Regions from separate parts of the Homo sapiens genome. Here region 2 is linked to region 1. The links come from fine-mapping of genetic effects on gene expression. A gene starts in region 1. The other region holds a variant in brackets. All regions are shown on one strand. Distances are between the middles of the regions.

The links. PIP is the estimated chance that this variant, and not a neighbour inherited with it, causes the effect.
Region 2: its variant is the best candidate, but not a certain one, in a credible set for the expression of C8orf88 in whole blood (INTERVAL, PIP 0.57).

The regions. Positions count from the first base shown.
Region 1 is chr8:90,982,685-90,988,072 of GRCh38, reverse strand. It overlaps C8orf88 (chromosome 8 open reading frame 88), which reads left to right and starts at 2,835. Exons shown (of 6, transcript NM_001190972.2): 1 at 2,835-2,959. RefSeq lists a silencer at 2,652-2,811.
Region 2 is chr8:90,820,590-90,825,977 of GRCh38, reverse strand. NECAB1 (N-terminal EF-hand calcium binding protein 1) reads right to left here. Exons shown (of 13, transcript NM_022351.5): 3 at 1,153-1,261. All of the region lies in intron 1 of LOC105375635 (a long non-coding RNA gene), which reads left to right. Among named protein-coding and RNA genes, the nearest start is that of NECAB1, 32 kb to the right of the region's middle. The variant AT/T (reference allele first, on the strand shown) is at 3,111.

The sequences.
Region 1 (5,388 bases):
AACTAAGTCATTATTATAGCTTTTAACACAGGGGTTTCTAACCACTGCCCTCCCCCAGACCCCAGACTGGTACTGGTCATTGGCCTGTTAGGAAACAAGCCACACAGCAGGAGGTGAGTGGCAGGTGAGTGACTGAAGCTTCATCTGCATTTACAGCCCCTCCCCATTGCTGGCATTACTGCCTGAGCTCTGCTGCCTGTCAGATCAACAGTGGCCCATAGGAGTGTGAACCCTATTGTAAACTGCACATGCGAGGGATCTAGGTCGTGTGCTCCTTATAAGAATCTAATGCCTGATGATCTGAGGTGAAACAGTTTCATCCCAAAACCATACCCCGCCCTTCCAGTCATCCACGAAACCAGCCCCTGGTGCTAACAATGTTGGGGACCACTGTTTTAACACATTCCTATAATAATTATGAGCATCTGTGTTGTGTGTTTGTTAGTGTATCCTTCATAAAATGCTTCGTAAATGTTTGAGGAATAAATGAATAAAAGGCGACTATTGGCAGGAGGTTGGCAAGGAAATCATTTGGTAAACATGAGATAATGCTACCTCTTCAGCTTTCTGAGTTGCCAGGCTTTCAGTGGCACCACCCAGATTTAACAATTAATTTACTGAGTTGAAATTGTCTGTTTGCATATCTGCACCCTCACTAAACAGCACATACCATGAGATCAAGTAACCAGTTTGTATGTGTGTGTGTGTAGTTCTAGGTACTGTGAAAGTGGAGTTAAATAAAATATGAAAATATAAGTTTAAATAAAACCTCTACTTATAAGTAGTAAGACACATTATAAATTATTATCCTTCTAACTGGGATATCTATTTCCACTGTTGCTTTTTCTCAATCCATTCTCCAATTCTTTGAGTGGCCAGAGCAGGGCAGGAAGCAGGGATGGGGGGCGGTGACCAAAGTAAATATTTACTTAGAATAAGAAAATCAGTGACAACAAATTACAGATTTTTAAAAAGATGATAAATACCACAAATATTTTAGAAATTCAGTAAAATGATATTTTAAATTAACTACCTGAACCATTGCTATGTTTTTCCTATATTTTTAGTTTTCATTTTTTTATTGCCTCATCATTTGACAGTAATTTTGTAATGCACTTTCCCTGGTGATAATGAATAATGTGGTAGTCTTTTCAAAGCAAAGTTAGTCAACATGTATTTTTTGTTATTGAAAGCTTAAAAAAGTTATTGCAGTTTCACAATTTGTTATTGGTAATAATGCCAATTTTTAGTATTGCTAAATTTGGGGAAACTCATCTTAAGGTTCTTAGGTGAACTCTGTGATTTCAGGGCACTTCAAGTTTTCTCAGGCAGTGACTAACCTTTAAGTTGCTAAAAGTCATTAACCTGTTTGTTGTCAAGTTCTTGTTGTAAAGGTATGAATTCTAGATTATCCTTGTAGATGCCAAAATTTTATGTCATTATCAATAAGATTTTGAAAAGTTTCGATATGTTTATATGGTTCATTTTTCTTCCTCAATTATCAAAAAATCAAGGAGTCTGTCTAGTCTAATTTCTCTCTTCCTCTCAATAAATTACTAATACTGATCTGAATTGGAATTCTTCCAATTTACATTTTTGTCACAATAGTTTCTACTGACTTCATACAGTGATATGCACAAAATAATTTTATTGTAAGATGTATATAAAATTATACATGCTTCATTGTTAAGTATATTCCTGAAGAAGAAAACTTCTGTTGTGACTAGATGGATGAGAACCACATCCTGCACTTAAGATTTTCTACATCTGGTGGTTGGAATATATTGATTCCACTGTGCAGACTTCTGGTGCCTCACCCCAAGGGATGCCCTTTTATCATGACCCATCTCTGACCCTGGACCCTAGGTCTCTGATGCCAGGCGAGTTGTCTCAGTGGATAGTAGGAGTGTTTCTGGAAGCCATTTCTAAACGGAGACAGCTCCAATAACTTGACTATACATGGAAGTGCTTGTGAAACTTCATACCTTCCAAAATGGTAAATCCTGATAGTGCCCCACTTAAAACCGTTCAGTGTTTGCCAGTGCATTTTCAACTGTCCTTTTGGTGCTTGGGGACGTGAGGGACTGCCACCTCCACGTCCCTCAGTACAAGCAGACAGTCCCCCTCTGGGGACACTCAAAGATAATGAAAAATTAGCAAAAGGATTGAAGGTGAAGATTAAAAAGAAATGATTCGGATGGAGTTGCCTTAATTCATTTTGTTCCTTTCAGGATGGCAGTCTGTGTGAAACGCTGTATCCCTGGTCTGAGGTAAACCAGGTCTCAAACATCTTCCTCCCTGCCAACCCGAATCCCGACACCCACTAAATGCACCAAGGGGAAAGCAGCGCCTGCCAGCAGCTCTGACGGGGGACAGGAGTAGGGTGGACTCAGTCGTCAGCACGACGGCGGCCTCCCTCACAGAGGCGGCCTCCCTCACAGACGCTGCCTGGAACCCGCCGCCAAGCCCCCAGCAGGCGGCCCGCCTGGCGCCTCCCAGTCTTCGCACAAGCAGGGCCACGGTCTGGGGCCCCCAAGGCCGTTCACGCGGGCGCGCCCCGTCGAGGGCTAGCCTGTCAGCGCCTCACTCGCGGCCTCCTACCCTAGACGACCGGCTCTGGGTGGCGCCGCTCCAACCCCACGCGCCCAGCTCGCCCGGGAAAGCGCGCGCCACCCTTTTAACGGTTCTACCCCGGCAGGGGTGCGGCTGCTCTCGAGGCTCAGCGCCCGAGGCCACGCCCCGCGCCCGCCCTGGGCCCGCCTCGTGCCCCTCGGAGCCGCCTCCCGCCCCGCCCCCCGCCCCTCGCCCCCCGCCCCTCGCCCCCCGCCGCCGCCACCGCGGTCAGCCAGCGGACCAGCGGCAGGAGCCGTTCCCCGACGGGCAGCAGGGCGCTCGGCCTCCGCGTGTGGGCTGAGCGCGGCGACGCTGCTGCCCCGAAATCCCCGTGGATTTTGAGTCGGTAAGTGGCTAGGGAGGATGAGCGACACTGGGGGACGGAAGTCGGGCCCCGTGGTGTGGAGGAGGCGGGTGGGCGCCGTCTCCCAGGCCCGACCCCGGGAAAGTTGAGGCGAGGAAGAGAAGCTCTGAGGTGGGTCGGGAAATCTCTCAGGGCCCCTTCAGTACCCTGTGGACCCTGAATGGGAGTGGGATGGGAGCGAGAGCGTCGGATGAGGGGAAAGAAAGTGTAGGGGGCCAGGGGAGCCCGACGGAGGGGCAAGTGGCCGAGACCAAAGCCATCGCCAAAAAAGGAGCTAAGTACACAGCTCCCCTTGGCTCTGCCCCAGCACCTGGTGCCAGGCGGTGGGAGGCTTTCAAGACGATTTGCCCCCTCCACCCGGTGGCACAAGGTTTTCATTGCTGGTGTTTTAGTCAAAGCTACGGAAAGGACAGTTACATGACTAAAGTAATCACAGACACCTATTACCTGGACAGCTTTAGCCCATCCGAATGTTAAATTGTGTTTTGTTTTGAGAAATCCCTCAAATAGACCAAAAAAAAAATTAAATTAGTTATAAAGAGAAGGCATGAAATGGAAGATATGTTGGAACTCTCCAAGCTTCTAGTTTTTTGATATTTTCGTTTTAATTTTTCCTTAATAGTGCAACCAGATATATGGAACGTGAAATGTCTTTCACCACTTGAGTCATAGGTGGTTTATTTCTTACTCCCCGATGTTTCCTGTATGTTTCTCTTCATCTATCATTTTGTCAGTGTGAGCAGTTTACTTACAAGCAGTATTGGGTTTCAAGGAATCCTAACTTTGTAATGTTTTGAAGTTGGAAATTGAGATGAAATTTTATCTGGTTATCATATGGGAATTATACACAAGGTAAATTCAAATATGGTCTTTTCATTTCATTATTTCACTTTATATGATCTTATTTCTCAACGGCAGCGGTAGCATCAGTACTTTCCAAAGAAGACTAGAATTTATATTGGAGTTTAAGTATAGTACTCAGCTTCTAAAAACAGTGCATAGTATATTTCATATGCTGTGATCTATGGTTAGTATGGCAGTATACCATGTCTGTAGCGTGAGGAAAGCACAGTACTCCCTAATTTATTTAGTATTCTAAGAAAAATGGTAAATTGAAGAAATGGATATTATTAGCATATACCAATTTATTCTGCATGGCCTTATAAATAAATGTTACTTTTCACATTAATTTTTAAATCTATACACGCAGTGTCCACATGTAATAAATGGACAGTCAGATATCTTTCTTTTATGTAACAAATAGGCAAGTTTTGATATAAAGGTGTGAACTTTGTAGTCAAATCCTAATATCTAGCACTTAGTAGCTATGTGGACTTGGGCATGTCTCTTATTTTTCTGAGCCTCAGGTTTCTTATCTGTGAAGTGGGACTAATAATAATTTTCTTCCACCGTTCATATATGGCTCAAAATTAAATGAAATTATATTTAGTATGTAGTAGGACCTTAAAAAGGCATCTTAATTAAAAAATAAGATTAATAAGATTTTGGCCAAAGTGGTCAATGTATCTGCTTATTATCCCATTGTATTTTAGACAATTCTAGGTTTACTGGTAATATCAGGACTGATAAGGCCTGAAGATTCATACTTAGGTAAATTTTTTAAAAAGAAAAGGAACCTAAGATATAGTTAGTATTGCCAGGTGTAGAATAGCAACTGTAAATAACTAACTGATTTACCAATATTCTATTCATACAACTTGGTCTTTAAAGATGATTTGTTAAGTGTGTGTGATCTTGAAAAAAACTATTCAGCAACCATTTCTCAGTATGTATTAATAGAAAGTTTTTTTGGAGACATTGGATCAAAATATCCTTTAAAAAACATTTATACCACAAAACTATACATTTACATTTTTAAATTTACATTTTACAACCTTATGATAGGCCCACTACTTGCTACCCAATGTTGTAGGCAGAATTCTGTTTATTTTGTAACTGTGCTTTGAATCGTTGATATGATACATGGCTACTCTAGGTAGCACCAGTAGCTTCAAGGGAAACTTTTTGATCTCTACATTCCATGGATGAAGCAGGCATTAGAGTTTAAGACTGAATTTGTTTTGTATAATGACTTTGTAGTGCAGTTAAGTCTTTATTATTTTTAACTAAACTGAGAATTAGGTTTTGGTTTATGGAGTTCTGCCTTAATTATAATCTCGTGACTCAGTTTTACAATAATAATTACTTTTTATAAATACTTAACCTTTTTCATTAATAACATGATGGTGGAATGTACTATGCATTGTAATCCCAAACTTGTCCCCTATAATGTCAGTGTTTCCCTGCAGGCATCGTTTACTTTAAAAAAAAATATTAAACAGAGTACTGAATGACACCATCTTTTCTAATTTCCTTAACTGATGTGGATTTATATACAGGGAGCCATTGCT
Region 2 (5,388 bases), 160 kb after region 1:
AGCATTTATGAATTATATTGATACGATCAGCTGATTGGTCTATTTCTCCATAAAACCATAAGCTGGTTCCATGTTGTACCACCAATACCTACTATGGACTTGATATGCTAGAGTTATTGTTGAGTATAGTTACCCATGAATACTGTTTCTGTCAACAAAATACTTAAGCTGTTTGATGAAGAATTTGAAACCCCAATGAAGTCAAGAAACTTCTAAATTGGTTGTTTAAAAAATATTCAACAGCTTGAGTAAAGTGAATTTAATCTTTTAATTTTTCTTAATAGTTAGCTTCAAAAAAATGTCTGTTTATAGATGTAGCCCAAGAGCATTTTCTTGGCATCTTGGCTCACTGCCTGGAGCCATCTCAACACTTTGCCTAAGGAAATATAATGATTTTTCAAGCAATGGACACACTGATAGGTCTGAAGACATGGTTGAAATGGTGGTTTTTCATATAAGCGTTTTGTAACTGTGACTGTCACAAATAATCTGATTTGGTTCAATTGCCCAAAACAAGCAGCATATTTCTATTGCTCTATACCCTAAAGTCCTCATTATTTTATATTTTTAAGCATAGTGAGAATATAAATAGAAACTTCAGAAATGTTATGCTAATACAAAAGAGAGATCTATATAGGCAAAATAAGTAAAAGAATGGATCACCATATACATTGGCTCTCCAGAGATAATTATGTCCTCAGGTAACAGTGATTTGGAATTCAGCACACCTGAATTGTCCAGATAACTGCTACAATTCTTCCTTTTCACTGTGTTAATGTAAGAATGGCCTAAGAATAATTTTTAAACAAAGCAAATTGAGATTAAGCCTAAATAACAAGGTAAAATTCTACTTTTTAAATTAATGGCAGAACTATATTTATTTATAATTTATACTTTGTTTTACATTCTGCAAAGTGGGAACAATCTAAAAACACTTCAGGGGAGCTTTCTACAAAAGATCATTATTTTCTGATTCAAAGTCAATTTTTCAGAGCAATTTTAATTACTAAAGAGGTATCTCAGAATTAAGCATAGGCAAACTTGGCAAAATATACCCTCTATATTGTTCTTCCCTTTCTTCTTCCTGGACATGAATGCATTCACGCTCTCTGTGCCTCACTTGTGGAATCCAGTGATAAAAAAGTTTCTTACTTAGTATTATGTGTATCAATGGTATGGAAAAGCTCGTGTAATTCTTCTCCACTGAGAACACCATCTGCAAAATATGCTTTGAATTCTTCAAAGGATAATTTTCCATCATCTGAAATGGCAAGAACAAAGAGACACAAATTATTTTAATTTTGTACATTGTTCTGTTTTTGCTTTATAAAACTTCACCCAAACGCTTGTTCATGTACACACGTGTACTCAAAAAGAAAGAACAGCTGAAGGTGTTAAAAAGAAAAATAATTTAATATATCTTTATATAACATAGAACACAGATGTGTACACTCTAATAAAATATAAGTCTACAAGGTTCTAGGTATTTTTTGGTTCATTTATTCACATGACAAACATTTAACATTTAATGAACCATTTAACAGGCCATACAAGAAAGATGTCCACATAACCAAATAAAGAGCTCAACACAGAGTCAATTATTTAGATGTTTTACCTTCATGGTACCAAACACATATAGGACCTAGCAGATTGCAGGATAAATATGATGTGTTTAATAAATGTATATCAGAGTTGTTATTATAGTCTAACAAACTATGTCCATTCCTATGCCCTTTAAATCAGTGAGTACCTTTAAAGCCAAAGACATTTTACTTACTGTAGGGCACAAAGGTGAAACCCAATCAGAGAGATAACATATAATAAAAGAGATCATAAAAGAGATAATATATACAGACATTATAAGTATTTTATACAGTAAAATACGGTTAATGCAATAAGAGACAGAGGTATTTTAACTGTATGGGAGTTTTGGGTAACAAAAGATTCTTTCCATTTGAGGGCCTGAGGGGTTTTAGTAGCATTCACCCCTGACTTTGGACAACAGGTAAAATCTAGATCAGCAGAGATGGAAGAAACACATTAATAACAGGCAAAAGATTTGTACAAAATGCAGCAGCAGCAAACCTAGAGAAACGAATGGATGAGAAAAGAGAGGGAAGCATCTTTCTCTCTGTGCAGGGAGCTAGTTTTTCAGTTATCTCAGATAAGCTGCCAAATAACTGTAAAAGATAGTAAGATCCCTTCCATCTACAATGAGAAAACTGAGGTTTAAGGAGGATGGAATTTGTCCAGGGTCACGAAACTCCTATAATGTACTTCTACCAACAACTCTATACTGAACAAAGTGGAATTTGTCTTTGAGTAGAAGAATGTTTGATTTAATAGAAAGAGCTCCTCTAGATTCATCTAGAACATTTTGTTTCCCCAAAATATGGCCCACACATTGCCTGGAGCACTGCTGAAATGCAGATTCCTAGGCCCCACAAGCGAATTAGAATCTCACAGAGGGCATGGAGGGGTGGGTAGACAAGAAATTTGAATTTTTATTATAAAGGATAAAATAAGCCTAATCATAGAATTACTTATTTTTTTCAGATAAGGACTTACAGACTACAACATTTTAAAAAATCCTTATTTGCAAAAAATATAAGTATAAATAGTCCTGGAAGGTTTTAAATTGTATTTCATTTTGCTTTTTAACACAAAAGGCACAATAATCTAATTTTCCAGTTAATTTTTGCTAACGTTTAACTGGGCAGACACAGCCTTAGAGGTAGAATAAATCCAGATCTGAATCAAGCACAGATCTAGGGACCCGATCTTCTGGGTCCTCCTGGGCCAAGCCAGCTTAGCGATTCAGGTGACATAACAACCCATTGCAAAATGAAGTTCAATCCCCAGGCTCATCAATTTCCTAATTTTGTGTTTCTGTTTTTGAATGAGGTAGTTTTATGCCTCATATGACTATTTTAAACTTAGCCCCATGTAACCTGATGGATATGCTAGACAAGACATAGTGTGGTATTTCTACTGTGTATCTCCTTGCTTTGATGAAAAATGTATTGCCAGGTTGAAAAACTGGACACAAATCAGACTGAGGTTAAAGAGCGAAAAAGAAAGACCTTTTCATGTACTGTTTAAAAAAAAAA[AT/T]AAAGAAAAAAGAAAAAACAGAAATCGACCTGCTATTTCCATCTCCAACACTATGATATGTAGTGAATGTAATACGAATACATTGATGATGGAATATGTTTTCCTTGGTGAATGGTTAATATTTCTCAGGTGAGTGGAAACAGGCTATTACTGCACTTGGGTTGCCTGTGCACCCTGTGGATAGGGTGGGCCCCTGTAATACTGCTTTATAATTATGATAAGTAAGTGATTTCAAATAATAATGTGCATTCTATCAAATAAAAGCATCGATTAATAAGGGCTCTGATGATTCTCTGGGGCTAAAAGACTTTTATTTAGAAAAAAATCCTCTTATTAGAAAAAAATATATAAAAAGAAAAAGGAAGCATTAGCTTATAGTCTTGGCTTGAAGGGTGGAAAGTATGCTTTGAAAACCTGTTGTGACCACATGCAGTATTCCTGAAAGACTTCACTTTAGGTGGCCACACTTTTAAATAAGCAATTGCAAAGAGTTACTTTTGAAGAGTTGTAGACTAGAGCCTTAATGTTAAACAAAAGTATTACATTTTTTAAAGGAAAGGGAAAAATATTCCCTTGTAGTATGATTCTGTATTTATAAAGCAATTATAAATTTGTATTAGAAACATTTTATTCAAACTTCAACTTTCCTGTTGATATTTTCTTTTGAAATGGAACAACAGAGTTAACCTTTGATTTATACTGGTTTGGCTCACAGAATAGCCAAATCTTGTGAGGTCTGATTTCCTATGGTAATAAATTTGAACTTTTACCACCAAAGGGTACAGGTTTTTCAGCTTTTTCAACTGGAATTACATGCTTTGTCCAAGTTTATCCTGAAAATAGTTGGCCCTCCTCTGCTTTACTTAAAAATTATCCTGGCCTTATGTTCCAAATTCCAATAATTTTTTGAGATGGAGGCAGCAGAGTGCAGTTGCTTAGACCACAGTCTTGGGATAAAAAAATCTTTAGTTTTTAACACGTTTTGCCATTTGCTAGTAGGGCACTTTATCCACTCTTTCATCAAATGTTTATCAAGGTCCTAGTATGTGCCAAAAAACTGTGTTTTGTATTAAGAACATAGGTAGACAAGCTTTTATGGATCTTATAATTATGACACAGTAAATGGTACGATATAATAAGGGGGATTCTACGAGACACAGGGCGATGTGAGAGCATTTTGAAAAAAGAAAAAAAAAAGTCTAGCTATAAAGGGATAGGGAAGGTTTCCCAGAAGAAGTGGCACTTGTGATGAGACACAGATGAAAAATAGGGGTTAGTGAAGGAAGATCTTTAAAGAGAAAGAGTACTCCAGGCAGAGGGAATGCAAATGACAAGGCTAGGAGGCAAGAAAAGACTTGGGTTGGAAACTGAAAAGAAAAATCACTATACTTAGCCAAAGGGTATATATTTGGAGGATAGAAGGAAGAGTCAGAGTTAGATATGAAGAGGAAATATGAGAAACCATCAAAATTGTGATAAAGAGATTTTAATTTACCCCAAGAGTGCTCAGGAGCCACAGTCATATTTTGGAAACCTTAGTGTGGATAAGACTTGCTTTCCAAACTGAGCAACAGATGGATGGTATCACCATTCATTGCTAGAAAGAACACTGAGCAAAAGCATGGAGTGAGCCAAGAGTGTTCTTCTGGATATGTTGAGATTGGGGGTACCTGTGGAGTAAGTAGAGGCATCTAGTGCACAGTAGTAGAATCACAGGGGTCTAGAAAAGTCAATGGGCGATGGGGGCTTGAGGTGTATGCTTGGGAGTTACCAATACCAAGTAATTGACTTAGAAGTGAGTGAGTTCTCCCAGGGAGAATGCCTACAACAAGGAAGAAAAGGGTCCAGAAAGAATGTTGGAAGTACCAACTAATTCCTTTAAGTTTCAGATTTCGTAAATGCCTGGCTATTGAGAGGATTAAGAGAAAGGCTATATAGAAAACAATTAACACAGCACCTAGCACATAGTAAGAGTTCAACAATGGTAGATATGGATTTACTAGTTCACTCTTGCTAAGTGAAGATCATTTATGTGTTTTTAATTTCCATTTTCTACTATTCCTTGAAAAATATTTATTGAGTACACACAGAAAATGGGTATTTAAGGTATGTTTAATGACAGACTTTTTTTTTAGGTAATCAGGTTTGTAAATCTTAAAACTAGTGCTTCTTAAAAAAAAAAAAAAAGACTATTTAAACAGTAATTTAATGTCTCCTTCAAGCTGCATCCACAAACATGACAACAACTAGAGCTCTGATCTGAGTATTGCCCCTCCC